Linked DNA regions of Homo sapiens. The protein of the gene in region 4 interacts with the protein of the main gene of each other region in a pairwise test. Each region holds a gene or a part of one and is shown on either strand. Other genes may lie near its edges. The genes, in order: WASHC3, OSBPL5, OSBPL11, SNAP25 and OSBPL10.

Region 1 (5,880 bases), on a different chromosome or scaffold from region 4:
CTTACATTATAGGGCTGTTGTAAAGATTAAATTAGTTTATGAAAGGCACTTAGAAACGTGCATGCCTTGGTACACAGAAAGCACTCTTGAAGTGTTAGCTGTTATCATCACTGTCAACATCATCGTGATCTAAAAAATATCCTGTGAAAAGTGCCTCCAGGTACAAAGGCAGAATTCCATTTATAAATCTGTTTGTTTTATTTGTTTATTATTATTACTTTGGTAGGCCACCATTTTGATGATTACTTTGTTTTAGATTTTAATACCTCGCTGAGATACACTAGAGATTGTTCTCAAACAACAAAGAATTTTTATTTTTTGAAATAAAAAGTAATAGAAAATTTAAATTCATACAGAAGCATAAGTAAATGTTAAGATCTAAGAGCCAAATGTAAAGTATAGCTTTTACTGGGATGCTGATTCAAACGAATCATCTTCAAAAACACACTGGTATTTCTAAGATCAGTAGCTCTCAAATTTTAAGAGCCTACAGATCACCTAGGGGTCTTGTTAAAATGTAGATTCTCATCAGCAGTTTTGGGGTGGAGCCTGAGATGCTTCATTCTAACAAGCTGCCAGGTGATGCCCATGTGGTTGGTCCATGGCGTGTACTTGAGTAACAAGGGGTTAGACAATACCAGAGAATGTTTTATTTATTTATTTATTTTTTATTTTTGAGGCAGGGACTTGCGCTGTCACCTAGGCTGGAGTGCAGTAGTGTAATCTCGGTTCACTGCAACCTCTGCCTCGTGGGCTCAAGTGATCCTCCCACCTCAGCCTCCCGAGTAGTGAGACCACAGGTGCGTGCCACCACACCTGGCTAATTTTTGTATTTTTAGTGGAGATAGGGTTTTACCATGTTGCCCAGGCTGATCTCGAACTCCTGAGCTCAAGCAATCCACCTGCCTCAGCCTCCCAAAGTGTTGGGATTACAGGCCTGAGTGACTGCACCTGGCCAATTATTGTTAATTACACTGTATATGATAAAGGCATTTATATAAGCAAATGTTACAAAAGAAAATGTCAAAACTTTTCAGAGATGCTCAAAAATTTATGCAGGGTGAGATGACAAGATGTCTGGAATTAATTTCAGCAAGTGACCAAAAAAATAGATGAAGCAATTGTGAAAACTGGTGAATCCAGGTCTATTTTTGTGTATGTTTAAAAATTTTACAATAAAATATTTTAAAAGTACATTTCTTCTAAGAACCTAGAAAAATTTCTAATTATTTTGAAGAAAATAATTATTTGAAGCTTTTTCCTAGTCCTATATAGACTGATTTTCTTTTTTACAGGCAAAGAAAGTATTAACTTCAGGAAGCCCTTCAAAATAACACAGCTAATTTGTTTTTCCCAAACTTCATTTTCTATGTTAAGGTTTTAAAATTTTACTATTAGAAGTTTTACATGTTTATTTTTCTTCCTTCCAACCTGCTGCTTAACACTATCAGTTTCAACCAAGAACATCTGCTCGTTTCTTAGAACTCACTTACCTGTGGTTGCTCTGAAGTGGCTTCAGGATGTGCTCCATTTGTGACACTGGTGACATTTAAAGGAGATACTTCAACTGTGACATCATCTAGGCCTGGGATAGATGACAACTGAGAAAAGAAAATTAGTATTGGAATATGAAGATAGTACTTGCATAAATAAACACTATTTTTAATAGCTGTCTTAAGTTTTAAGGCTATACAAATAGGTTCACAATATCTTGTCTTTAATTTTCCATGTCATAAACTAAAAGTGAAAGACGGTCACAAATTCTTTTGAAGAACTTCTCAAAAATCTAATTTAGTTTACATAACCATCATTTTCAAAATATAGACAATCCTAGTGTAAGGACTGAGAGCCTGGTCTTTGAAGTCAGACTGTCAGGTTTAACTTTTAGCTCTACCACTCACAAGCTGTGTGATCTTGTGTAAAACTCCCTGTGTCTCAATTATCTCACCTGTAAAGTGGAGATAAGAACATGTACCTAGAAAAGTTGTTGTAAAAATATTTCTATTGATAATACTTCGAAAAAAAAGGGCTTTGTGCAAATTTTGAGTTTCAATTATCTAGGATATGACAAAACTCTTGTCTTTACACTTTAATGTGTGACACAGCTCATTCTTTTTTCTTTCTTTGAACATTCACCACTGAATGTTATTAAAATATGTTTCTTCTATGCAAAAAAATGGGCATATTGTTGGTATTTCAACCTGAAATGGTTTAGCTTTCACTATGAAATAGTTAAGCATTTCAGGTTAGATCTGCGAGACCCATACAAACCTTCTTTTCTGAGTTCATCCTGATATCAATGACACGCATTTGTCGATGTTTGGCTAACTTTGGGGATGACTCTATGGCCATGGAAATAACTAAGGTTAACTTGTCCATATGGTCATTTAATGTGCGACCTTGGACTCTAACTCCCAGGAATTCCTTAAACATTAAAATAAGACACATATTCACATTAAAATAAGACACATATTCATTATAAAGAATAATAATTAAAAAAAAAACCAATGGTAATAAGATCTCAAGCAGCAATACTCATTGAGAACTGTTGACTGATAACCATAGTTAGCACAGTGGCTATGGCCCAAATAGTTTCAAGTGGGTATGGCTGCTAGAGGACTATCTTGAACATGTTCAAGACCGGGTTTCCAAACTAGAGAAATGTTCTAAGAGAAACACAGTTGCTGAAGTCCATAAAGAGACGTAGAAAGTACAAACTAGACATTCTGGTCATATTAAAAAGGGATATCATTTTTTTCTTCCTCATAAATATTTACAGAATATTTCTTAGTTTTATTTTGGTAAATGGACAAAGAAAATATTAACTTCAGGAAAGTTAGTCATGAAAATACACTAGTGTCTCCATAACTTTATAAACAGAAAAAACACATGTAAAAAAATATTAAAAATGAAACCAAAGACATCACTGTTATCAAAATCTTTAAGCTTGCAATCTAAAACAGTCTTCTATTTTTCTTAGTTATTATTTGCAATTTCTGACATCAAAACTGGTATTCCTCATTAGCATTTAAGGTATCTGCAAATAGAAACAGCTGATATTGTCTCTAAAATTTGCTCTGAGACATCTAAAGATTTATATTAGTATTGTATTATCAAATAATAACTAGTAAAATAAATCTGGAATTTTCTATCAAATGAAGTGAACTAGATAACAGCTCAGCTTGTTAACATGTTACTCGCATTATGCGTTTGCCTAGCACAATGAAAGAAATCGCAAACCATGTGTACATTTGAATTAATGGTTCATAATGAACACCATTTTCTTTGCAACTGCAGTAAAATTAAAAACACAACCAGTATCACTTCACAGATACAGAAGTTAAATGGAATCACTCCCAAATGCAATGAAAATTAAGTATGATTAAGAAAGCTGGTATATGCACAGCAAAGTTTATACTACAAATTATTGAGAAATACCAACCTTTGCATCTAAAATATTGAGAGTTGTTTCAATTTGTTGGATACGAAGTGAAAGGTCTGCCAGTTTCTGTAAAAGAAAAATTAGAGACATAAAGACTTTAATTAAAATAAACTGTTAACAATAACTAAGGGCAGATATGAAAATATTAAAAACCATTAAATATTTGTCATATTCTAATACAGTACTGTCTTATTTACATGAGTAGGAATGAGAACTCTTCTATTACGTGTATTATAATGCTTCTCAGTTTCTTTTTTTTTTGGGACGGAGTCTTGCTCTGTCGCCAGGCTGGAGCGCAGTGGTGCGATCTCGGCTCCCTGCAACCCCTGCCCCCTGGGTTCAAGTGATTCTCCTGCCTCAGCCTCCCGAGTGCTGGGACTACAGGCACGTGCCACCACGCCCAGCTAATTTTTGCATTTTTAGTAGAGATAGTGTTTCACCATGTTGGTCAGGATGGTCTTGATCTCTTGACCTCGTGATCTGCCTGCTTGGCCTCCCAAAGTGCTGTGATTACAGGCGTGAGCCACCGCACCCAGTCGCTTCTCAGTTATTTTATAAAATTATATTCACTTATAACAAAGTTGACATTTTCTGCAAACTCATTATCAGAGCAGTAAACAATTGTTGAGACCAGAATATAAACAAACCAGGACAGAGCCTTTTGTTTACTACTGTACCTTTAGTGCCCAGAATAGTACCCTGACACTTAATAGGAGCTTAATAATTATTTGTTGATGAATGAAGAAATTTTTTCATAGAAAATAAAAGAATAAAAATTATTCAAAGACACGCTGCAACAAGGTCTGCCTTTATAAATTACTTAAATGCATCAGCATATACAATTCGTCCCAGATTTAAACATCTGTAGTTTGAAAAATAAAGGGGAATGGAATTGGAAGATGAGTAATTCATTTTGGAAAGAGAAGAGAAAAAACTAGAGTATTAAAATCTACTATCAAAATGCAAGATAAACCAGATAGAAGAGCTTATCATGCTTGTTACTCTGTATAATTAAATTGTCAATGTACCTCTGTGTAAATATACACCTATACAAAGAAAGGTAGCATCATAAAATATGACCATTCAAGTAAAGAACATTTACTTGAAACCTCCTAATCTTAAACATTATATTCAGTCACATAATCCAAGAGCAGTTGCCCAGTTTACAAGCTGGCAGATACACAGCATCCTGATTGTATTCTGGGATATTATTAAGATCCTGACTATTAAGTAGAACTTTACCATCCTGTGAAATGGTCACTTTGCCCACAATTAGAGGGGGCAAAAAACTGAAAGTGGCCACAAAGCAGATAGTGCTTCTTTACAGATCACTTATTTTTAGTTTAGCATCTTGATATCGACAAAGACATAATCTACAAATAAAGTATTAGGATCTAGTTTTCATGGTATCAAAGCTAAGTTTACCCTTGACTTCTAGAATTCATTCACATAAGGCTTTTAGGTAAACACCAATACAGGTTTATAACATGTATTATGAATGAATCCCTCTCCAAATTATAAGTGTATTCCTTAAAATCATAGAAATTTAATTTTGGCAAATCTAATCAGTCTCAATTCACTAGAGAAAAAATTCCACAGCAAATTAATATGTAAAGTGAATGAGAATTTCCAACTTATTTAAAAATGGACATATTGGTTTGATTGAAGGAAACACAAAAGGAAACAAAAAAATGGAATTAAAAATTTTTCTGTTTTAATATACCTATATATTTACTTTTAAGCAATAATCATCAATACTGTAAATATCTGAGTATTTACCTTGCTACATATGGTACAGTGTATATGCAACATATCAATTGAAATCTTACACCAAATCTATAAAGTAGGAACTATTATGCCAATTTTAAAGATGAGAAAATTGAGTCTCATACAAGTAAAATATCCTGAACTCAAACCCTCCAACTCCAGAGGCAATACACTTCACGAGATTTTTTTGAGATAATTTTACACTGTTAAAACATAATGGTAAATTCTTGGGTATTGCACAGAATTTTTGTTATCCAAAGCTAACAAATGATCAATTCGTTTCTCACTAAGATGATTCTGTGCCAAGAGGAAAAGCCTTTTGCTCTTCTGATTCTGAGATGATCATTTACAAAGTGGTTCTGAACTACAGTACATGAACTAGGATGAGAGAAAAAATTCTACCTTTATTTTTATCTACTTCTAGCTTAAATTCAGCATTGTTTAAAAACATAGTTAAAAAAAAAATCACCATAGGCTGGGCACAATGGCTCATGCCTGTAATCCCAGCACTTTGGGAGGCCGAGGCAGGTGTATCATCTGAGGTCAGGATGGTCAACATGGTGAAACCCCAACTCTACTAAAAATACAAAAAAAATTAGCCAAGTGTGGTGGTGTGCGTCTGCAGTCCCAGCTACTCAGGAGGCTGAGGCAGGAGAATCGCTTGAACCTGG
Region 2 (6,423 bases), on a different chromosome or scaffold from region 4:
ATGGTGGGGCCTACTGGGCGTGCCCCCCTAAAGCTGGTGCCATTGGCACCTGGCTCTGCCCATCTCTGAGACCTCTGACGCCTTCATTTCCTGCGTTGGCCACCAGGCACAGATGCTGTGTCCATCTGACAGGAGAGGAAGCGGGGTCCCAGGAGGAACAAGCCACTGCCTGGTGACAGAGCTTCTTTCTGGCAGCAGCAGGATTCGGACCTACCTCTTGCTGGGGGCAACCTCTTCGGCTCACTGCCTCTCCAAAACCAGGCAAGAGGCTGGAAATGGGGCTTTCTGGAAAAATGCAGAGCCTGCTGGGAAGTGGGGCAGACAACTGACACCTGTCACTGAGCCTGGCAGGTGGCGTGTTCTTCATTTCTTGCATGGCCATCTGGCTGTCAGACACTACCCAGTGAGAGGCTCAACCCTCGTCCTGCTCCACCCCAGCCCCACCCTGCTGTCATCTATGGCCCCTTCCCCCACCCTCAGGTGCCTCTTTGACTTTTGACCTCTGCCCTCAGCAGTGTCATTTCATGAAACCCAGGCCCTGGACAGCCAGCATCAAGCAACTGGCAACCTTCCCTACTGCCGCCCCTGAGACCTCCGCCCTAGGGATAGGGGCTTTGTTTTCTTCCCTAATTCCCTTTGGATTGGCTCCAGCAACCAGCAAGTTACCAGGCAGCAGCACCTCAGCTTTGGGCGGAGTCTTCAAAGAGCAGACCCAGCAGTTGTATGTGGATCCCAGCTGCACAGACCCTCTCCTGCAGAGGCAGAGGCCGCCTGCCACAGGCCACGCGGAGCAGGGTCCCACCATGGCCCTGAGCATCTTGACTGAGCAGTTCTGCATCCCAAGGCCTCACAAGGTGACTATGGAATGGCAATGCTAGCCCTGGGGGTAAGCTTAGGGCAAGTCCGATCAGCCCACTCGCCTCCGTAAGCCGTGGGTTCCTGTGATCCGCACACAAGCGGCTGGTGCTGCTATCCCCAGGAGGATACCCACCAACTTGTCTAACGGGGTGGGCAAGGCCAGGGCTGAGACGGGAAGGGGTCTGGCTTGTTGTGGGCAGAGCACCTGCATGCTGTGCCGTTCCCCCTTCAGGTGCTGGAAGGAGCCTTCCTGGGCCGCTCGCCCTCCGCAGCCCTGCTGGGAGGTCTTGCAGACGCCCATGATAGCCAGGCTTGCGGCCTCCCGAATGCAACTGCAGCGTGAAACCGTAGAAACACACGTGTCAGTGGCAGTTCTGCCTGGGGAGGAGCCCAGGGCTCTCTGCGGAGGGTCAGTTCTGTCCCTGTTAAGGTTCTGTGTGGAAAAGACTCCACGCCCTCTTGGGGTCTACCTACATCTGGGGATGCCCGAGCCCAGCTCCCAGTTTTTCTGGTCATTTGGGGACATACCATAGGAAGGACCTGCAGTGCACCTCAGGCTTGGACACTAGGGATGCAAACGCCCTGGGGCCAGCCCTGGGCCCACACCCAATTTAGGGTCTACAGGCAGGGAGCCAGGGGCCAGGGGAGGACTTCTCAGCTCCCAAGGGGATGCTGTTTAGGGGAATTAGAATGTCTTTTATATACAAGAGAACTGAGGGGTCTAAAAAGGTCTCTGGGGGGTAGAAGAAGGTGAGGAGAAAACACAGGAAGAAATGCACATGAGGGGAGGTTCTTGTCAAAAGGGTCCTGAGAAAGACGTACAGTTAGAGTGTGACTGAGGGTCCTTCTTAGCACATAAGGGGCAGGGACAACGGGCTCAGATGTCTGGGGCTCCTCTTGTGTTCTGATGGCTCCTGAGACGGGGAGAAACGGCGACAGTTTCCTGGGTTCAGGAAGGGAGAGGAGGCGCCTCGCACCCTGGCTAGGGTGGGCTGGGGGCCTGCACCCCTAAGTTGGAGAACCCCACGAAGCTGACCCCACTCACCGCTGCCCACCCCGCCAAGCCTCCTGGCCATTTTCAGCGGAGTGTCCCGACCTCTGGCCGCCCGGGTGGGTGTGAGCCCCGGAGCGCGCGCGGGGGGTTGGGGGATGAGGAGAAGCGGCAGCCGGTGGGGGGCAGCCCCTGGGCGCCCGCTCCGCGCGGCGATTCGGCCCGGGTTTTGCGGCCGCCGCGCCTCCTCCTCCCGCCTCCGGGCTCCCTGGGCCTCCTCCCTCCGCCGCGCCCTCGCTCCGCCTCGCGCGGGGGGACCATCTGCTGGCATTTCCTGCAGCCAGGCCCGCGCCGCCAGTGGAGCCCCCGCGCGCCCGGCCGGCCCGGAGCACCGAGCTCGCGGCACGGTAGGAGGTAGGAGCGCGGCGGCCCGGGGGGCGGCAGGGCGGCGGGGGGATGGCGGGCTGGGAAGGATCCGGAGGGCCCCGCCGGGCAGGGCCGGAGCGAACCGAGGGCCGCGGGGGGCCGGCCGAAGGGATCCAGGAGCTCGCGCCGCAGCCCCGCGGACCCTGGCAGTAGCCAGTGCGGGGAACCACGCCGCGGGGCCGGTCGCGCGCTGGGGAGCTGGGGAGCGCGGGAGCCTGGGGGCGCCCCGGGCCAGGACGGGTCGGCGCCTGGCGGGTTGGGGCGGGTGGGGCCCGCGAGTGGGAAGCGGCGCGCCCAGCTCGGCTCCCCACTTGGTGGGGCTTAAAGGAGCCGGGACCGCCAGGGAAGGTGGCTGGGTCTGACCACCACAAACCCTGGCCAATCAGGGGGTCTGTCCCCCCAGCTCGGCCGACGCGGGCTCCAAGGAGCCAGGTCTTGATGGGTCTGCAGGGGGTCTGGGATCTGAGTCTGGCGTCCCAGCTGCGGGCTTGGGAGGACTGCTGTGTCTGAGTCCGCAGAGTCAGGGGGCTGCCTGGATTACAGGCTAGGGAAGGACCTTGCCCACAGCCCCCATCTCTGGGGCACTGACCCCCTGAAGATGTGGAGCCTTAGGGATTGTTGAGGTGCCTGAGTCCTCAAGAGGGTCTTGTGCACTTGAAGATTCCTCCCGGGGAGCGGGGTGCAGGAGGGTGGGGCAGGCAGGAAGGAGGCTGGAGTCTGCAGCCCCCCGGGCAACAGGCCCGTCCTGGGCTTCCCAGGCACCGCCCCCAACCCCCACCCAGACCGCTGGGCTGCCTCCTGTCAGAAGCCAACTGGAGTTAGGGTTTGGGGTGACTCCTGGGGGTATGGAGGGGTCACAGGGTGGGCTTACCTGCCCCTCCCTCGTCCCTGGGCTGAGCCCAGCCCCTCCCTCATCCTTGGGCTGAGCGGGTCTGCCCCGCCGAAGCGGCTGGGTGGATTTCCTCTCTTGCCGTTTCGCAACTTGCTCCCCTCTGTGTGTCTGCCCCAGTCTCTTCAAGGTGCCTTTTACAGGAAGACTTCTGTAAGGGTCCCACCCCACCTGATACAGCCTCCCAAAGCCTGGAGAAGTGGGCCAGCCTTTGGGATCCTAGATAGATGCTCTTGGGTCTGCCTGCACCAGGGCTGATCCAGATCCCAGACTGAACAGAAACTCTGCTCCCCAACCCCAGGAGTAAGGCCCCTCTGCACGTTTTTATCCCACCTCCTTGGTACACAGGGCCTTGCTGTTCCTTGAACCTGCCAGGTGAGTGGGGGCTTTGCAGGCATCGGGCAGGTTTGTGGCAACCTGGGGTGGCATCATGTGCCCAGCTGCTCCCTTCTGGTCTCAGGCTCCAGAACTGCAGATCCTATTGTCTGCCTGCACGCGTGTGGGGCTGGCCTGGGGTGCCAGGAGGCAGGCACCGCGTGTGTCTGTCTTGCCAGGCTGTGTTTAAGAAAGGTGACACAGCAGATAGGCCGGATGAGGAGCCTCTGACCTGCAGTCCTGGGCCTGGTCTCAGAGAGGCTGCCCTGCAGATGTCGAACCCCGGGCAGCCATCCTGCATGTCCAGTGGAGGCTCCTTTCTGGGTCCAGATTGGGCCATGAATAGGCCATGTTCTTCAAAGGACTGCTTTCAGCTCTTTACAGAATACCAACGCAAGACCGCCCCCCCCACCCAACCCCTACCCAGGATTGTATTTACTATGCTGAGAATGCCTGGTATCAGTTTCTCTCCTGAGATCCTGGCCTCACTCTGAGCGCTGATAGTAATCTGACATGTAACGCTTGGGGGAGGGAGAAACACTCTGTGACAAGCCGGCGGGTGGAAGGGCTGTGTGTGTCTCTGCCAGCTGTGTTTTGGGGACTGGTGCTCTCTGCTGATTCTGTGGTTAAGCCTGCACACGTTTGCACACATACAGGCACAGTGTGCAGGTGGAAAACTTACCCAAGATGACAGAAGGTGCCCCCCGCCCCCATTCCCATTTATTGTTCAAGGGACAGGTGAATCTGAGCCTGTGACCGCAGCTGAGAAATGTTGTGGACCCAGCTCAGGGTTCTCCCGGAGAGGCCTGGGGAGCTGGAAGCTCTGACCTCCGGGACAGGGGGTTGTAGAGGGGCCGAGGCCCAGGGTTGCACAGTGCCAAAAGGATCCCGGTCATTTTGACAGGAAGGGAGCTGTCGGGGAGGGAGCCGTTAGGTGCAGCTCCCCTTGTGGAGTCCAAGGGCCAGGTGGGTAGAAGTGCCCACCACTTGCAGGGTTGGCAGGGGAGCCCAGGGAGTGCACCAGTGTGCTGGGGGGTAGATGTTGGGGGGTACAAGTGAGGGCCACTGGCCTCCCGACAGGGACAGGCATGCTGCCCTGGATGTCCTCATGCTGCTTGTGACCGGCACAAAGGAAAAGAATATTGTTCTCGATGCCAGCTTTGCTTGATGACTTACCGAGCCTGCAGCTTGAGGAGGCAACTGACAGCCTGAGGATGGGGCTCCTGGGCTGGTCAAGATTTTTAAAGGTTTTGGGGCCTTGGTGGCTGGGTCTTGGCCACGGCTGGGTAACCTTTCCCGTGGAGATGTATGGGCAGATAGTGAAGCTGCTCCGGAGAGTGGTAGGGTTGGCGGTCGAGTACAAAGGACTTGGACTAAGGACCGCGTTGTTCTCTTAGCATCACAGTTGTTCTGAGCCAGGGCCTCTGGGATCATGTCCACGAGGATGTGAGATTGCCTTGTGCTGGCATCTACACTAAGCGGAGTGGGCACCAGCTGTGTCCTCAGGACCAGGGCTTGAGGTGGGAGATGGGGAGGGGGTGGGACATGAGCCTTCTTGGCTGGCTTAGAGGGATCCAGAATTCCTAGAGGGCCTTTGTTGCAAATCTCAGAGCCACCCAGGCTGAGAGCAAATGCTTTGCTCGGCCTCCCAGCCCACCTCACATCCGGCTACTCCCTCCAGGGCTGGCCTCCACTCCCCTCCTGGCCCTACCAGCTCTTGCCTGGAGCTCCACATCAGCTACCTAGTAGGCTCCCCTTTCGTGGCCTTCCTAGCCCTTCTCCAGCCAGCAGCCAGCATGGTGTTTAAAAAGATAAACCACTTCATGTAATTTGACCACTTAGAGCCCTTTGAGATTTGCCATGGGTCTCAGTAAGTCCTGACCCCTTTCCAGACCCCACAGGCCCTAGATGCCCCTCCACTCTGTCTCCCTTCCCTTGTTCTCCTCTCCCCCTCCCCTCCCCTCCCTCTCCCCTCCTTGCTCACAGGGGTCTGGCGTCAGCCCCGGCTTCTTACTCCAGGGCCTTTGCACTGCCTGTGCCTCTGCTTTCGGCCCCTCCTTGGATCTGCATTTGGTGGGCTCCATCTAATTCAGGTCCCAGCTCAGATGCTGCCTCTCTGAGAGAGTCTCTGTTCCTGGCCCGTTACCCATTCCAAAGCAGCTCTCAGCTCTGTGTTTTGTTTTCTCTTTATTTATACTGAAATGGTCATGTTTGTTTAATTGAATGGCTTCCTATGGAGAAAGCGATTGGGCCAAGCCAGGTTCATGGTGGGCGCCGCTGGTGCGTGGCATCTGTCCCTGGTGGGTGCCGCTGGTGCGCGGTGTCTGTCCCCATGCACGGTTGCCTGCAAGTCTGCTCCGGGCTCTCTTCCCAGGGGCTGGCACACAGTAGGTGTTCTACGGTTAAGTGAGGCACATGTGGAAAGCCGTCATACTGTCTCATCCCAGGGAGGTCAGTAGATTGAGACTGGCTGCCCCCATCTAGCAAGTCCCACCCACCATGTCCTGGTTTCACCAGCATCGGCTGGTGTGGGACGTGACCAGCTCATTTCCTCCATGCTCTAGGATGGGAAGGACAAGAGGGCGTGACTCTTCCCAGAGTCCCATCATCTCTGATTTAGGAATGGAGCCCTTAGGGTGTCTCACCTCCTCGGGATGCCTAATAGTGTGTTTGGTGAATGCAGATGGACTTAACTGGTCCATAGATCCCCTCTCACCCTGCTGACACGAAGACAAGGATGAAGGGGAAAGTTGAGGCTCAACAACTGAACAGTATTCCTTCTAAATATGTACATTCTTAGGGATTTTAAGTGGAAAACAGGGAGGAGATTTGAGGGATACCCCACCTCGGCAGGCAGCTGGTCAGGCTGCCTGTTGTGACCAGC
Region 3 (5,880 bases), on a different chromosome or scaffold from region 4:
AAAAGCAGGATTTTTTGTTTTTAGAAAACTTAGAAATTAACGAGTAAAAAGAGAAGTAAATTTTCAAAGTTGAAATGTAAGCAAGACTAATTGTGCTTCTGGACATGATGAAATAATGGGGAACACATTTATTTTCCTGCCTTCATCAACCAGGAAACCAGGCAACATATAATACAATAGTGGTTTTCAGATACTGAGCAAAAGGCAGTGCAGGGCAGTGATCCTTGAGAAAGGAAACAAATGAGGGGAGTCCTATGAGTGCTCTAACTCGCTGTCCAGAGTGTTTCTAGGCCACGCACAGGGAGAGGGAAGCTTAACAAATCTCAAGCAAAAAAAAAAAAAAACAAAAAAAAACTGCCACAACACTTCTTTAGGGAAAGAACTGTTTGTTGAACAAATGGTGCTGGGACAACTGGATATACATGTGAAAAAAATGTAGTAAGTTAAACATAAAACTACCATAAACCCAGCAATTCCACTCCTGGGTATTTACCCAAGAAAAATGAAAATAAATGTCCATACAAAGACTTGTAGGAGAATGTTCACAGCAGTATTATGGATAGGCAAAATGTGATATATCCATACAGTGCAATACTATTCAGCAATAAAAAGCAATGAACCACTGATACATGCAATTAATACTTCATGGATGAACCTCAAAAACGTTATACTAAGGAAATAAGCCAGGCATAAGAGATCACACATTGTATGATTTATATGAAATATCCAGAAAAGGCAAATTTATAGAGACAGAAAGTTAGTGGTTCTCTGGGCTGGGGGTAATGGGGATTAACTGTAAATGAACAAGAGAGATCTTACGGTAGGATGAAAATATTCTAAAACTTATTTATGGTAATGACTGTACTACTCGAGAAAGTTACTAAACATCTGTTTTTTCTTTCTTTCTTCCTTTCTTTCCTCCCCCCTTCCTTCTCTTCCTCCCCTTCCCTCCCTCCCTTCTCTCTCCCTCCCTCCCTCTTTCTCTTCTGTTCTCGTCTCTTCTCTTTTTTCTTTTTTTGAGACAGGGTCTCACTGTCACCATCTCAGCTCACTGCAACCTCTGCCTCCCGGACTCAAGCAATTCTCCTGCCTCACTTTCTTGAGTAGCTGGGACTACAGGCGTGCACCACCATGCCCGGCTAATTTTTGTATTTTGAGTACAGACAGGGTTTCATCATGTTGGCCAGGCTGGTCTCGAACTCCTGACCTCAAATGACCCGCCCACCTCGGCCTCCCAAAGTGCTGGATAGTATGCCAAAGGTCTTATAATTTAAAGAATTAAGGCTACATATGTATCTTAATGGCTCCAAAAGGTTTCCTAACACATTTCTGAAAATCAAGTATCAAATATCCTTTTAAAAAAATATGATACATGAGATGGCTCAAAAATAAAAATGAATTTATAAGGAATTCTCCATAAATAACCAAAGACATTAAAACAAAAACAGAAACATCAAGACATAACAATCCTAAATATAAATGCCTGCCCTAATAACAGAACTTCTAATAAAATGAAGTAACAACTTGCAGAACTACAAAGTGAAATATTCAATTGTAATTGGTAATTTTAATAACCAATCTCAATAACTAAACTCAACTGATAGAATAAATACACAGAAAATCTGTAAGACTACAGAAGACTAGAAAAATACTGTCAACTCATTTGACCTGACGTTTATAGAACACACTCACCTCAGCCTCCTGAGTAGCTGGCATTACAGGCACATGCCATCACATCCAACTAATTTTTATATTTTTTGTGGAGACAGAGTTTTGCCATGTTACCCAGGCTGGTCTCAAACTCTTGGGCTTAATACACATTCGTGTCAAGGGCACATGAAACATTTACCAAGGCCAGGTGTGGTGGCTCATGAATAATTCTAGCACTTTGGGAGGCCGACGTGAGTGGATCACTTGAGGTCAGGAGTTTGAGACCAGCCTGGCCAACATGGTGAAACCCCATCTCTACTAAAAATATAAAAAAATTAGCTGGGTGTGGTGGCACACGCCTGTAGTCCCAGCTACTCGGGAGGCTGAGGCATGAGAATCGCTTGAACCAGGGAGGTGGAGGTTGCAGTGAGCCGAGACTGCATCACTGCACTCCAGCCTGGGCGACAGAGTAAGACACTACTTTGTCTTAAAAAAAAAAAAAGAAACATTTACCAAGACAGAACATATTCAGAATCATTAAACAAACCTAAATAAAGAATTAAAATCATACAAAGTATATTCTTTCACCAAAATGAAACTAAATTAGAAATAAATAATGGAAAGCTAGCTGGAAAATCTCTAAACATTTAGAAATCATCAACACATTTGTAAATAAGTTCATGAGTTAAAAAAAAAAAACCCACAAAGGAAATAAGAAAATATTTCGAAATGAAAACACATAAAAAGTCATCAGATAGAAATAAAGCAGTCCTCAGAGGAAAATTTACAGCATTAAACATTTAGGAAAAAAATATTGATGAGCTAAACCAGGGATCAAACTATGGCCCACAGCCCATTTTTGTAAATAATTTTTTATTGCAATTTAACAATGTCTCATCATTGACTTATTGTCTATGGATGTTTCATGCTATAAGGGCAGAGTTGAGTAGCTGTGGGAGAGGCTATTTGGTCCACTAAGGCTAAAATATTAATTGGCCTTTTACAGAAAAAGTTTGCTGACCCCTAACCTAAGCTTCCATTGTAAGAAATTAGAAAAAAAAAAAAAAAAAAAAAAAAAAGCAAATTATTTACAATGTAAGGAGAAAAAAAGAGATTTTATAAAAGAGCAAAATTCAATGAGAAAGAAAACAAACATAGATTAAATCAGTGAAGCCAAAATCTGGTTTTTTGTGTAAAATTAATAAACTTTTAGTCACACTGATGAGAAAAAAGATATTACAAATATAAGGAATAAGTATGGGGATATCACTATAGATCCTACACAGATAAAAAAATAAGGTAATATTAGGAACTATATGACAATAAATTTGACACATTAGCTGAAATGAACCAATTCCTTGAAAGACAAACTACCAAAGCTCACTGAAGAAACAGAAAACCTTAACAGCCCTATATATTAAACATACGTAATTTGTAATTCAAAACCTTCCCCTAAAGAAAAGAACAGAGCAATATCCCTCATGTATATAGAAACTATAAAATTCATTACAAAATTTTAGCAAATAAAATTCAGAAGCATCTTTTTTTTTTTTTTTTTTTTTTTTGAGACAGTCTGGCTCTGTCACCCAGGCTAGAGTGCAGTGGTTCAACGGCGGCTCACTGCAACCTCCACCTCCTGGGTTCAAGTGATTCTCATGCCTCAGCCTCCCGAGTAGCTGAGACTACAGGTGCACGCCACCACGCCAGGTGATTTTTGTATTTTTAGTAGAGATGCCTGGCTGATTTTTGTATTTTTAGTAGAGATGGGGTTTCACCATGTTGGCCAGGCTGGTCTTGAACTCCTGACCTCAAGTGACACACCCGCCTTGGCCTTCCAACATGCTGGGATTATAGGCGTGAGCCACCACACCGGCCCAGAAGCATCTCTTTATCTGCCCATACATTCAATCTGTGGTGATATATTGATTTAAAGTATATATAGGAAAAATCTGGGCCGGGCATGGTGGCTCAAGCCTGTAATTCCAGCACTTTGGGAGGCCGAGGTGGGCGGATCACCTGAGATCAGGAGTTCAAGACCAGCCTGACCAACATGGTGAAACCCCATCTCTATTAAAAATACAAAAAAATCAGTTGGGTGTGGTGGTGTGCACCTGTAATCCCAGCTACTTGGGAGGCTGAGGCATGAGAATCGCTTGAGCCCAGGAGGCAGAGGTTGCAGTGAGCCGAGATCATGCCACTGCACTCCAACTTAGGTGACAGAGTGAGTCCATCTCAAAAAAAAAAAAAAAATTCTGGCCTCACACAGATACAGTTTGAAAAAGAGAAGAAATATTTTTACAGATTTTTCAAATAATTCAATTCTTTCATACTGTTTCAAAACTCGACAACTGGTAATTTTAAAAAGGCCAGTTGCAATGTGGAAAATTTAAGAATGTCAATATTTTTTCAAATAACTTATATGGAAATCCACTGGTCTAATGTGCATCCTGAATGGATCATTTATCCATGCATGATTCTGTAATATCATGCATTAGTCATTTGAAAAATACTGGTTCATTGAGTTATGCAGATCTTCCAGATGTTGACATACTATACAATATTTTAAAAAATCACGTTCAATAATATAAGCACCAAGTTCACCAGAAAACTAATTGGGAAGTTTTCAAGTTCATGGTGGCAGATACAATTTTCTAAAATTCTAATTTTGCCTTGAAGCTCAAATTTTATTATTAGTAACATACCATCAATTGTTTTTCTTTAAGTATCACATTCATGTCTTTCATTTACAAGAAAAATGTCTACCTAACATTGAAATTAGAAGAACCATAGTTTGTCTATCAATCATTCTTTTAAGTAAACATGGTATTTCATGAACAAAGTGATTAATTCTGCTTGTAACTCAAAAAATTTTACAAGTGCTCTTCCTCCAGATAACTACTATATTTCTTCGGTAGCCAGCACAAATACTTATTTATATTCCCAATTTGTCATACAGAATACTAATAAGACATGTACTCGGCCAGGCACGGTGGCTCATGCCTGTAATCCCAGCACTTTGGGAGGCTGAGGTGGCAGGATCACTTGAGGTCAGAAGTTCACGACCAGCCTGGCCAACATGGTGAAACCCCGTCTCTACTACAAATACAAAAAATTAGCCAGGCGTGGTGGTCGATGCCTGCAGTCCCAGCTACTCAGGAGGCTGAGGCAGGAGGATCACTTGAACCTAGGAGGTGGAAGTTGCAGGGAGCCGAGATCGCCCGACCACACTCCAGCCTGGGTGACAGGGTGAGACCCTGTCTCAAAAAAAAAAAAAAAAAAAGACATGTACTCAGTAATCCAGATTTTAAAAAAACTAATAATTTGTATTGCTTTTTCAAGGACATCTTAAGAGAAAGGGGCATGCGAGTACATGGCAGTGAAGAATATAATGACTGCTTGTGACGTTTGGTGCCACTGCCTAGATTAGTCCTAAGGCCCACCAGTGCTACCCACAGCATTCCTTTTGCACCATCATAAGAGCCCACAGAGTGAAAAATGATAAATAATATCTCTGTATTGTTATAAACAAATTGTGAACTTGCAGATGCCCTGAAAAGGTCTCAAGGACCCAACAGGGGTCTGCAAAGCAAACTTTGAGACCCTCTCCTTAGGATAAATCCCTGTAAGAATTCTTTAAAAATTCATTATTGCTGTTATTTTTTGACCCACTCTGAATGTTTGATTGTGGACATTTAATCCCTTTTCACACCTAGTTAGAAATTGTTTGGTTCTATTTATGTGATCTTAATGTAAGATGTTTAGTGGTTCCCTGTATATTTTTTTTCTATTTTTAATTGATAGAAGGACATTTTATGTCCCTCATGACATAAAATTTAAACAGTACAAATAGGAATCTTGTAAAAATTAAGTCTCTTTCCTATTCCAGATCCCAGTACTCTTTTCCAGAAGCAACCACTGTCAACACATTTTGGAAGCTGTACCTTATTAACACGTATAGATCCACTTTATTTTTCAAGGTCTATGACACATACTGCCAAAATAACCTCTACAAAGATTGCACTGGTTTAACATCTAATCAGCAGCATGAAAATGCCCATTTGCTCACACCTTTTCCCCAAAGAAGTATTATTTTAAAAACTAATTTGTCTGATTAATTTGTACCTCTGAATTCTAATTACCCTAAACAATTTTTCATTTCCTTGGTTGAGCATTTAAGATGTTCCGATATTTTTGCACTACCTCTTTACATCCTTTGCCCAGTTTTTGTAT
Region 4 (5,880 bases):
CCAGAGAAAGCCCAAGATCTCTAAAAACGATAATCACACATGAATTTATATACTGATAAGCAGTTCAAAGCACAGCTAAAACAGCATCTCGCTGAATAAAAACTATTAGGCTTGTCTTATTAGGTTAAGATAAGTATAGTCCAACCCATTCTTTTTCCACTTCATCTCTCCCATTGGGCAAGTTCAATTAATCCATTTATTTTGCCTGGCCGACTGCTGCTCTACCAAATTGGAATGAGTGAGGTTTATGATTGCAAGTGCCCTTTTGATTCCATTATTGCTATTTGCCCCATTTTACCCATTTAAAAATAGTTTGGGATTCATTAACCCTGCCTGGCAAATGGATGCTCAATCCAGGCAGGAATATAAAAAAGCTTCTGTATTTATATTATTGGACTTGATATTTCCCTTTGTTAAAGGGCTTTCCTATTTTTTCATAAATTTTAGTGCTTGACTTTAAATAGAACAATTTCTAAAAATGATACACCTATATGCGTACATATTTTTAAAAGTCATATATGTGGCTAAAGTTAGAACAGAATCTCAAGATTAGATGTAATTTATAGGCACAAAAATAATTACAAATAAAGTTTTATGTAGATAATTCCTTTGTATATTAAGAATTGCTCTAATTTGCTTAAAGTGATACAATCGTCTGTGATTTCTTGAGAGCACAGACTTGGAAATTCTATTATTCTCTGCTTCCCAGACCAGACTACAGAGGTGGCTTGGGCTGGGAAGGAGGGTGAAGGTGTCTTCATGGCTATCTGGCAACTTAAATACAGCATCTCCCTCATTCTGTGCCTTTCTGATAGGCTACATCCACACTGGAATCTAGGGGATCATGGCCCAAGGAAACATCATAGCAACTAGGAAAGGATGTATCAGCATAAGGGATTTGTTCCTTTATCTTAAAATACTGTCACTTCTTACCTCTTCAACCAGTTGCAGCATACGACGGGTGCTTTCCAGCGACTAAGATTTAAAAAACAAACAAACATAAACTTTATGAGTGCAGGATCCAGAGATCTTGGAAAATCAGAAATACTTTATTTACTTGAGAAACACAAAGGGTCTCTGTCACATATTCTTTTCAGTTGGCAAGTGAAACAAAAAATGTCATTACATTTTCAAACTCTTTCCTATCAGGCTTTTTACATGATCAGATTCCCTAAAGCAATTACATTACAGCTTATCTTCAGAAAATAAAAACCATATGAAGCTGATCTTGATATCAAAGACAAAGTAATCTGGAGAAGATAATTTTGCATGCTCAGAATGCATGAAAAATTATCTCAATTACTCAGAGGACTAATTTGGCCTCCCTGGGCCAGGAACATTAAATTTTAAACACAAACATAATTTTTCATGAATCGAGATGAATATAACATCAAGTTTCTTACAAAGCTCCTAGAAACACAATTGGAAGTTCTTATCAATACAAATTAAGTTGTTGCCTTAGGGTGAAAAAAATCAAGCATGTTTGAAATGACCAGCCTATAGGAGAGAGCTATAATAATTATCTTCATCCTTAGATAAGAAAAAACGAGACGGAAAGGCTGAGCTCTGCAATGGTCCCCCGGGCACTGCGTTGTCACTTTTTTCTCAGTTCTTTTGAAACGACTAGAATCCAACAACCAGTGTGATTTCTCAAAGCTTTGCTTTTAACTGACAAACTTATTTTGAACAAGATTCTGCAGGAACCTGAAGGATGTTAACTTCCCTGGAAGAGCTGTCAGCCAGCTGCTTTTTGAAATAGAATGGCTGCAAGCAGCAGTCTGCTGGTAAAGGTTTAACTACCGGCTCTCTGGGAAAAATACACAAATACATACATGTATTCAAGTTTATTATTTTACTGATATAAAGGATGAATAGCACAAAATTTATAAATAATAATAAAATATACAATACTCTCTTTATTGTAAATTCCGCATAGCCAATTGATTCTCACAGAAAACTTTTACTGATTTTTGCTGAACTTTTGTGTCTACAGCTAACCATGTGATGAACCAGAGTAGTTCTGACATGAATGTTGGTTGGATATTTTCATGTATATTAATGAGTAAGAAGAAAATTAAACAATGAAGGCATGTGTTGGAATTGTACTCATTTGTGAATGACAAAAAGGATTTCTTTGCCTTAGAGAATCATAATTTTCAAATACTGGAAGATTTCCTCTTTTTGTGTTATTCATAGTATAATGGCTGCAGACATACATACTTTTAACTTTAATCTGCATTATTAATATTTTCTCTACTTTTTAAAGTCTAGACAATCAGCAAAACAATAAGTCAAGTCCTGATCTGCAGTATTTGCAGATTCTTGGGTGATAAATACTCTTACTCTGTCTGATTTTTAAATTTTTAAATATTTTTAGAGATGGGAGTCTCTCTATGTTGCTCAGGCTGGTCATGAACTCTTGGCCTATGCGATCCTCCTGCCTCAGCCTCCCAAGTAGCCGAGATCACAGGTGAGAGCCGCTGTACCCAGCTCTGCCTGATTTTAAGCTACAACTTCATATTACTGATCATGAAGTTGGAAAGACACATGGTAACACATTATTATACCTTATTTCCACCCTACAGATAAAATGGATGAATCTCAAGATCATGGATAATAGTAAAATGTAGCAAAATAATTAGGAAGTGATGAAGTTTGAGTGTTTATTACTTTTGATTTTAATAGAATCTATCTAATTGTCAGTTTATGTAATTCAGTTTTAATAATGGCTGCATTTAGCAACCAGCTTGCAAAGTTCCTGAAAATGTTAACAATCTGTTCTCGGAACTGAGCCTTCTCCAGCATAGCACTGAATTAAGGCACCCAAAGACATTGCTTTCTTTTCTTAGAGGACCTTGACTTCTCAAGGTTTCTGGAAATTGAGAGTTAGGGCCAAGACAGTAATTTGTATGCAGCTTCTATAATCAACTTATTCTGGTCCACAGAAGCCTTAGGTGTACAGAAAATCAAAGTCATATTACTTTTTCTAAAAGAAATTGAGACATTGAAAGAAAGGCTTTCCCTACCTGAACCTGAATAAGACAAACCACTCAGGCCTTCATCTTTTGCCTCCCTTCCTAGGTCTCCACTCCTTACCTCATCAGCCAACTGGTCAGCCCTTCGCTGCATCTCCTCCAGCTCATTGCGCATGTCTGCGTCTTCGGCCATGGTAGCGGTGGGGAGTGGCTGGGCGCCTGGGCTGGGGGGTCAGTGACGGGTTTGGCTCTGGACCTGGGAAGAAGTAGATATGAAAATATGAGAGCTTATATATGTTCATGTAGGTGTGTGCAAAGACCAGAAAATCTAAATGGCCCATACTCAGTCCACATGACTCAGTTTTCTGATCTGAAAGCCATACTCAGACAGGGGTCAACAGAATTGTGCTGTTTCTCCGAAGGATGCCACAAATACATACTTGCCAATTCTGCCATGGAGATAGACACCTATCTACCGATGAAATATTTTTAAAGAGACAAACTACCCAAGGGTTGGGAATGATGAGGTTGGAGGGATGTGGTTTGGGGTTAGTGTACTTTTATCATCACATTTATTTATTTATTTATTTATTTATTTATTTATTTATTTATTTAAATAGCTCTATTAAGGTATAACAGATATACAGTCCACCCCACATATTTGAAGTGTACAACTTGAGAAGTTTTGACATATGTATACACCCAGGAAACCATGACTGCAATCAAAACAATGAACATAGCCATTACTCCTCCAAATTTCCTACCCACCCACTGGCCCCTGCCCTATCCCACATGTCTATGCCCAGAAAACTGCTGATCTACTTTCTTTTTTTTATTTTTTTGAGACAGAGTCTCGCTCTGTCGCCCAGGCTGGAGTGCAGTGGCGTGATCTCAGCTCACTGCAAGCTCTGCCTCCCGGGTTCACGCCATTCTCCTGCCTCAGCCTCCCGAGTAGCTGGGACTACAGGTGCCTACCACCACACCTGGCTAATTTTTTGTATTTTTAGTAGAGACGGGGTTTCACTGTGTTGGCCAGGATGGTCTCGATCTCCTGACCTTGTGATCCGCCTGCCTTGGCCTCCCAAAGTGCTGGGATTACAGGCGTGAGCCACCGCACCCAGCCTGATCTACTTTCTGTCACTATACATTAGTTTGCATTTCCTATAATTTTATATAAATAAAAATCACATAGTGTGTACTACTTTTTGTCTGCCTTCTTTCACTTAGCATAATTATTTTGAGATTTATCTATGTTGCAGCATGTATTAATAGTTCATTCAATTTTTGTTGTTGAATAGTGTTCCATTGTGTTTAGAAGCATGTGGAAGCCAAAGGCAGAAAATCTTTCATCTATTTCAGTCATCATCAGAGGTTGCCAAAAGGGCTTGTGTGAGGGTGAGCTGCTATCACTCCAAAGAGGGTGGGTCCTTGGTCCTGAAAGGTGACCAGTCCATTTCTTGGCTACTCTCTTGAAATCCCACATGGTACAAATGACAGGTACAAGGACTGGGTCTATTCCGGAGAGAGCCCTCCTTCCTCCTTCCTTCTCAAATATTTATTGAGCACCTGTAATATGCCAGGCAGTGTTAGGCACTAGGGATACAGTGATGGACAAGATAGGCAAATTCCCTGCCTTTACAGAATTCAGTCTAATTGGGGAGATGCAAGCAAAAGAGGGAATTAGATGATTCAGGATGATGATAATTACACTAGGGGACATGTCTGGTATCATGGGTGCCCATGGGTTTGCAACAGGCCTTTCTGAGGAAGCCATGTCCCCAGGCCATCGAAGGGAAGGGGGCAAAGGGCCCGATGGGGTAGGTATCTGATAGAATGAAAAATTCTCTGTGAGTAGCACATTTGAAGAAGGCATGGGCTCTTGTCTTGTAGCGGAGATGGTCAACTGTGCACTTTAACCTCACTGTTGCATGGTAGAGCATGATCTCTGGGAAATGGCTGTGCAGCCAGGAATTACATTTCTAATTCCCATTGCAAGGAAGTGGTGCTCTGTGGCTAGAGACAGTCCATGAGTGGTAGTAGAACAAAGTGTGTCCCTGTCAGTCTAAGGCAGTTCAGAAGCAGGTATTCTCCTCCCTCTGTTTCTCCTTCTGCCAGAAATACAGTCTTAAAGGATGGTTAAGCCATGAGACCATGAGACAGAAGGAACTTGGGCCCTCCATATCCCTGCATGGAGAAAAATGACTCCTGGCCAGTAACACCTGAACTCTTACGTGAGCAAACAATATATTTCTATTATGCTATGGAAAATGTGAGGGTTGTTTTGTTATAGCAGCCTGTGTTACACTAACTAGTAAATGTCTGAAGAAACTTAAAATGAAACAGAAACATTGCATATGAGCATGATTTCCTAACCAAAAAACATATTTTTGTTTGTCTTTCTATTGAAAACCGAAGCTGGGAGAGGAAATTAGATTTGGGGCCTTGGGGCACTACCATGTTTATTATTATTATTATTTGCATGAGAATGAGAATCACTTTTCGGAAAAATAAAAATGAAAATTCTGTATGAAAAAAAAAATCAGGAACATACTCATTGGGAGGCAAGGGAACAAAAGTTCCCAGAGGCAGGTCCTAGATCTGATCCTGGGGGAGGAGGCTCTGCCATCTCACCCTCCAGGTCCACGATTCTATTGCTTTCTCAACAAGGATGGAATTTTAGTACATATTAATATCACTTTCCAAATTTATTGCTCTTGTGAAAAAGGAGAAATCATACTCTTTAGGGTTCTTAGAAGGAATCCTAAAGTGAAACTTCTTTGGAGATAACAGGTTTCACCGTTCTCTACCCAGTGATTGCCGGGCAAAGCAACAAATATGGAATCTGAGTAAAAAAAGAAATAACAAAACTTCAGGGTTGCCTTATTCTACCACTGGCATTAAACAA
Region 5 (5,880 bases), on a different chromosome or scaffold from region 4:
ACACGAGCAATTCTAATGCTAGGTATTTACCCAAAAGAAATAAAAGCATGTGACCACACAAAGACTTACACACAAATAGCAGCTTTATCTGTAATAGTCAAAAACTGGAAACAGCCCAAATGTTGTCCTACAGGTAATGGATAAACAAACTGTGGTATATCCACAGGACATAATGCCTGCATAATACACCGTGTCTCTATATATGCAGTGCCCAGGCACCTGTATACAGGCATCCAGCAAAGGGCGCATACCCAGAATATATAAACATCTCGTAAAAGTCAAGAAGAAAAAGGCAGACACCCAACAGATAAATGGGCAGAGGACTTAAAGAGCAGCTTGCAAAACATGACATCCCAATGGCCGATTAATACGTGAAAACATGTTCAGCCTCAGTAGTCATCAGGGAAAGGCAAATTAAAATTGGATGACATGAAAACAAGAGACAATATCAAGTGTGGATGAGAATGTGGTACACACAGAACTCTCTCTACACACTTTTGGTGGAAGTATTAATGCATACAACCACTGTGGAAAACTCTCTGCTAGTATCTAATAAGCTGGACATGAGCAAACACTCCTAGGTGTATATCCACAGAAATGCATACCTATGTTCTCCAAACACAGGTACTAGAATGTTCACAGCATTGTGACCCTATGAATAGGGTCAAAAACTGAAAAGAACTCAAATACCAACCTACAATAGACAAATGTGTTCAGTATATTCATACCACGGAATACCAAATAGCAATGAAAATAAACAGACCACAACTATACACAGAAACATGCGTAAGCCTCCCAAACATAACGTTAAGAGAAAGAAGCCAGACACACAGATCACATATTACACAATACACAGTTCAAAAGGAGACCAAACAACTCAGTGGTGTTGAGGTCAGAATAGCAGTTACCGTATGCGGGGAGATACTATGAGGAAAGGGGCTGTGGGGGACAGGGAATGTTTTGGCAGCTGTTTCTTAATCTGGGTGTGTTCCATTTAAGAAAATTCATTGAACTGTGTATGTATATGATTTGTGTACTTTTCTGAATGTAGATTAGACTTGAAATTTACTCGCAAAACTCAGTTAGACAGATGACGTGAAAAGGCATGAGCAGCTTTTCTTTGCCTCAACAACTTTTTCAAACTGCAAAACAGACACACATTCACCTTGGGAAAACAGACAAGAGAAGATAATGGAAATCACCCATAATCCCACCAACCAAAGAAAACCATTTTGGTGTGAATCTCCTCAAATATACACACACTTTCAAAGGAGGGGGAGGGCAGATTCTGCAGGGAGTAGTTAATACGAAGCAGGTGCTCAATACGTATTTTGAACCATAAGTGAATAAACAATATTATACAGTGTTTTGTAACCTAGGCAACCATCCCTTTTATTATTACCATCAATGAAACTAGTTAGTGTCCCTAAAGGATTTTAGCACACGGCCTCAAAACACTCTGGCAGACTACACAGGAAGATATGCAGATATTTCCTATGTACACGCGGACAAGAATACAAAACCCAGAGCAGTGATTTTCAACCCTGGTATCACCAATTCCCTCTAAAATTATTGGGATACTCAAAAAAACACTTATTTTCCTTCAAGGTGGCTTTAAAAATTCATATATACCCCAGTGATGCTTTAATTTGGGATAAGTGGCACCAAAATGCTGGGGGCTAAACACTAAACACTCAACGTATGTTGTTAATCCAGATAGAGTCAAAAGCAAGCCCTGGATATTTGGTCACTAATGGCCCCCAATGGGTGAGTTGTGGTGGGCCCTAAATCAGGGTGGGCACGTCACAGGAAGAGTCATACTCCCTGATCCAGAACCAAAGACTGTTTGCAGAGAGCAGGACAGATGATAAACACAGCAACACAAGGACAAGGTTACAAGCAGGTACAGAACCAAGACTTCTGATACTAATAATAGCTAACACTGGCTCAAATAGAACTAAGCCCTGGTTTCCCTCTCTGACATTTATTCATTTTTTTATCCATTTGACAATACTTACTCTACCCTTACTGTATACCAGACCCTGTTCTCAACACTGGAGATAACAGCAGCAACAAAGACAAACAAAATTATCTGTCCTCAGGGAGCTTATACTCTAGTGTGGAGAGACCAAAAAAAGTAAAATATAAAGCATGTCAGATAATAGCAAGGTATATGGAGAGAAATAAAATAGGAAAGGAAGATAGGATTTAGAGGCTGGGAAGGGGAGCTGTAAATGTTTGGTGCCAAGTTTTAAAAGGATCCCTTCAAAATGAAGTAATCATCTTCTCCCCAAAGAACTCTATGATAATTATGTTAATGTGGTCCCAGGGTAACCACAGCACTCAGAATAAAAACCAAGAATTTTATGGACCAGAAAGTGCCTACTTAAAAACAGACAAATTGAAGATCTAATAATAGCTACCACTTCTTGGTATCTTGCTATGTACTATTCTCAGTCCCTTATACACCAATAATCTCATTTAATCTTCACATTGAACTAATGAAAAGAGTAACATCATTTCCCACATTTAGCAGAAGAGAAAAACAGAAGCCCAGTGCAATTAAAGAGCTAGCCCACGGTCACATGTGTGCTAAGTGTTGGTGTCAAGATTTGAATCCAAAGTTCACACTACTCTTCCTCCCCAAATAAATGTCTACTTTAGAGACAGAGTCTTGCTCTGTTGCTCAGGCTGGAGTCCAGTGGTGTGATCATAGCTCACTGCAGCCTTGACCTCTTGTGCTCAAGCAATCCTCCCAACTCAGACCCCTGAGCAGCAGTGACTACAGGCCTAAGCCACCACCACTGGCTAATTTTTATATTTTTATTTTGTGGAGACAGGGTTTCACCATGGTTCCCACGCTGGTCTGGAACTCCTGGGCTCAAGCAATCCTCCCACCTCGGCCTCCCAAAGTGCTGGGATTACAGATGTGAGCCAATGCACCCAGCCTTGTCTTCCTTAATCCTAGTCAAGATTTGTTGTCATTCAGCATTTTATTGAGTTCTTACAACCCTGCCAATCACCAAAAAAAGAATTGAAGGTTGGTTCCACGTTCGCAGTGTCTTCTTTTCTCCAAATAAGAAAAAGTGAATGGCAATGGCAACCCTTAGATATTTAAATAACAATTTCTAGATCCAATTAGAAATTATTTCCTCAAATACTTGATATTATGAGCAACTCCAAAATAGCTCCATTTTAGTTTGAGAGTAAAGTTTGACTTAGGGCAAATGAAAGTTCATACAGCCAGTTTCTTACTAGGGGTAAGCACCTCAAACTGAACACAGTCCAAACAGAACTCTTGGCCAAGCCTCACCCTCCCCACAAACACATTCCCCTCCTGTGATCCTCATCTCCACAAAGGACGTCTCAACCTCCCAGCCTCTCAGGCCCACAAATCAAGAGTTATTCTTGCCCCTCTCTCACCTCCACATCAAATTCATCAGCGATTTCCATCCTCTCCACACCAGATCTATCCCTTCTCTCCAGTTCTCTGCCAACCCCCAGCCCAGGCCGCCAGCATCTCTTTCCTGGACCACTCAGATGGGCTCCTAACTGGTCTCCCTGCTTCATGCTTTGGCCCCTTGAAAATCTCATCTCTACACAGCAGCCAAAGTGACCTAATAAGTGTCACTTCCCTTCCTAAAATCCTTCTGGGCCACCAGAACCCAGTCTGAAATTCTAATCCTGGCCAACTAGGTGCTAGGTCATCTGCCTCCTCAAGTTCTCGAGGTTTACTCTCCCCATGGTTCACTCTGTATGAGTGATAAGATGGGTAATAAGAGAGTACTCTAAGTGACAATGTGAATAGCAGTAAAAACACTAGACTCACACTTAAAATTATTCCTGCAAATACTTGCTTTATCTCATCACCTTTTTTTAACCTTCATAGCACTTGCCACTTTCTGGATTTTTTATTGTTGTTCATTTGTATCAATGTATTTACTCTTCAGTGCCATCCTGTAAATCTATACAATGTTATTATGCCTGAAATATTTTCTTTAAATATCTATAATAATGAATGACAGAAAGCCCTTAATGCATGTTTTCCCCATACTCTAAGTATTTCACATTCTCATCCAGTGAGTGTGAGCCAAATGTCCTGAACTTACTCTCCTGAGTTGAGCACGTTCCCATCATACAGTGTTCTTCTCTGTGACCTCTCTTTATGTCGTTTATTTTGTGTTCTGGCCCAAACTGCCTTCCTAAGGGCATGAGGATGAGGCTACAAATAAAGGCAGAATATGATGCCAAGTGTTAAAATATAAGTTTTACAGCAACTTGAGAACATGCAAGAGGACACCAGGGTACAAACTGTTAGTGGGTGATTGGTATTAAGTCCTGGGAGCTGGTGAAGAGCACTACAATTGCACAGCAGCCTGAGAGGATGAACCAAGAACTTGGTTGCTATAGATTTGTCATTAACTGTGGGCACTTTGAAAAGAACTGCCAAAGGAAGATGCTATGAGGCCCAGAAAGAAAGGCAGCAGGAATCAGTTGGCTAACTATTTGTACTAAGGCATTTCCCTGGACCAGGGAAGGGTGGTAGCTCCAGCTCCTAGAACAGTTCCTGCCACATAGTAGGTGCTCAATAAAACAGTCTGTGAATAGATAATTGAACAAATGAATACATTTTCAAAGTTTCTATTTTTATCCTCTTCTCTCTTCCTTTTCACTAATCCATCTGTCCCTTCATAAGACCCCTAGAGAAGGGAGAATTTTGCAAGCACAGAGTCATCGTAATCTTCTCCAAACCACTAATGGACCCTCAGCCATCGTTCAAAGAACAAAATGTGGGAAATAGAAACCCTGACACTGAGATGTTAACAATTACAGACGATGCTTATGGAGTCAGTGGTAGACTTGGAAAACGGTGAGTCTACTGTGGTAAGAACAAACATAGGCAGACAGCTATAAATTGCAGTAAACAAACTCAATAAAGATGAGACATCACTTAAGCATGCTCAGGAGTGTACTTAATACCACATTTCACCTAGGTAGCCTGCTATCACGTAGGTATTATTATTGGCATTAAATGTGCTTCTTCTCAACCTTGCCTCCAATCTAAACACCACAATGGGTTTAAAATAATGCAAAAGAATGTTACTCCAATGCCTCCTAAATCCACTCCAAATAACAAATCCTTTAATACAGACTGCAAGGTAAAATATTGTTCCCCAGCAAGTAAATAATAAAATAACTGTAATCCAGGGTAAAAGCTTTGCTGGCCTCATAATCTACTTGAAGAAAAAGCATTAAGTGATTGCTCAACACACCAACAAAATGCTGTTACTGACAAGGCACCTTGAGTTGCCATTAACGAGACATAATTACCAAGAACTGAAATCAGATTTAGTCATCTCATATCTCCCTCTACCTACGCATTCTACCTATTCTTTTTCAGCTTTCACGAATTGAAAGGGGAAGGGAGAGGCAACAGCAGACACTAGGACTATTTTGAGAAATAAAAGGATTCAAAAGTTAAGTGCAACTTCCACTAACATAGTAACACATCTCCCAGGAAGCCCAGGTGACTCAGAAAGTCCTATATGTAGAATATCAATATAGAAACAACTCAGTTTCCATACTTCAAAAGACCTCTTCCTCCAAGTTGAGTTTCGTGCAGATAACTGGCTGATATGTTTCAGATGGAAGCAAATCTGAACATTTCCAAACAATCTACAGGAAGAGATAACCAAGTAATATAGTCCATGCAGCAGAGATAAGCAACTTTCCAGGGTATAATTCAAATCTCACAAACATCCTTAAGAGCCCCAAGTCTATTAAGATCTGGAGACTGTTAAATAGGCAGGACAAAATATCCCACCAACCACCTCTCCAAAAAGCATTGTTCTCCTCGCACTGACACTTGTATTTCCCTCT

Evidence for each region.
Region 1: the proteins of SNAP25 (region 4) and WASHC3 interact in a two-hybrid assay, tested with the Homo sapiens proteins (one large-scale study listed by BioGRID and IntAct).
Region 2: the proteins of SNAP25 (region 4) and OSBPL5 interact in a protein complementation assay, tested with the Homo sapiens proteins (one study listed by BioGRID).
Region 3: the proteins of SNAP25 (region 4) and OSBPL11 interact in a protein complementation assay, tested with the Homo sapiens proteins (one study listed by BioGRID).
Region 5: the proteins of SNAP25 (region 4) and OSBPL10 interact in a protein complementation assay, tested with the Homo sapiens proteins (one study listed by BioGRID).

Annotation. Positions count from the first base shown.
Region 1 is NC_000012.12:102,042,612-102,048,491, forward strand, and holds part of WASHC3 (WASH complex subunit 3), read right to left. Parts: intron 3,509-5,880; coding exon 3,443-3,508; intron 1,602-3,442; coding exon 1,494-1,601; intron 1-1,493. UniProt on the Homo sapiens protein: Acts as a component of the WASH core complex that functions as a nucleation-promoting factor (NPF) at the surface of endosomes, where it recruits and activates the Arp2/3 complex to induce actin polymerization, playing a key role in the fission of tubules that serve as transport intermediates during endosome sorting.
Region 2 is NC_000011.10:3,161,056-3,167,478, reverse strand, and holds the start of OSBPL5 (oxysterol-binding protein-related protein 5), read left to right. Parts: upstream 1-2,168; 5' UTR 2,169-2,263; intron 2,264-3,282; exon of another isoform or gene 3,283-3,539; intron 3,540-3,562; exon of another isoform or gene 3,563-6,423. UniProt on the Homo sapiens protein: Lipid transporter involved in lipid countertransport between the endoplasmic reticulum and the plasma membrane: specifically exchanges phosphatidylserine with phosphatidylinositol 4-phosphate (PI4P), delivering phosphatidylserine to the plasma membrane in exchange for PI4P, which is degraded by the SAC1/SACM1L phosphatase in the endoplasmic reticulum.
Region 3 is NC_000003.12:125,532,249-125,538,128, forward strand, and holds part of OSBPL11 (oxysterol-binding protein-related protein 11), read right to left. Parts: intron 1-5,880. UniProt on the Homo sapiens protein: Plays a role in regulating ADIPOQ and FABP4 levels in differentiating adipocytes and is also involved in regulation of adipocyte triglyceride storage. Weakly binds 25-hydroxycholesterol. Interacts with OSBPL9 to function as lipid transfer proteins.
Region 4 is NC_000020.11:10,272,780-10,278,659, reverse strand, and holds part of SNAP25 (synaptosomal-associated protein 25), read right to left. Parts: intron 3,232-5,880; 5' UTR 3,169-3,231; coding exon 3,097-3,168; intron 976-3,096; coding exon 934-975; intron 1-933.
Region 5 is NC_000003.12:31,973,808-31,979,687, forward strand, and holds part of OSBPL10 (oxysterol-binding protein-related protein 10), read right to left. Parts: intron 1-5,880. UniProt on the Homo sapiens protein: Probable lipid transporter involved in lipid countertransport between the endoplasmic reticulum and the plasma membrane.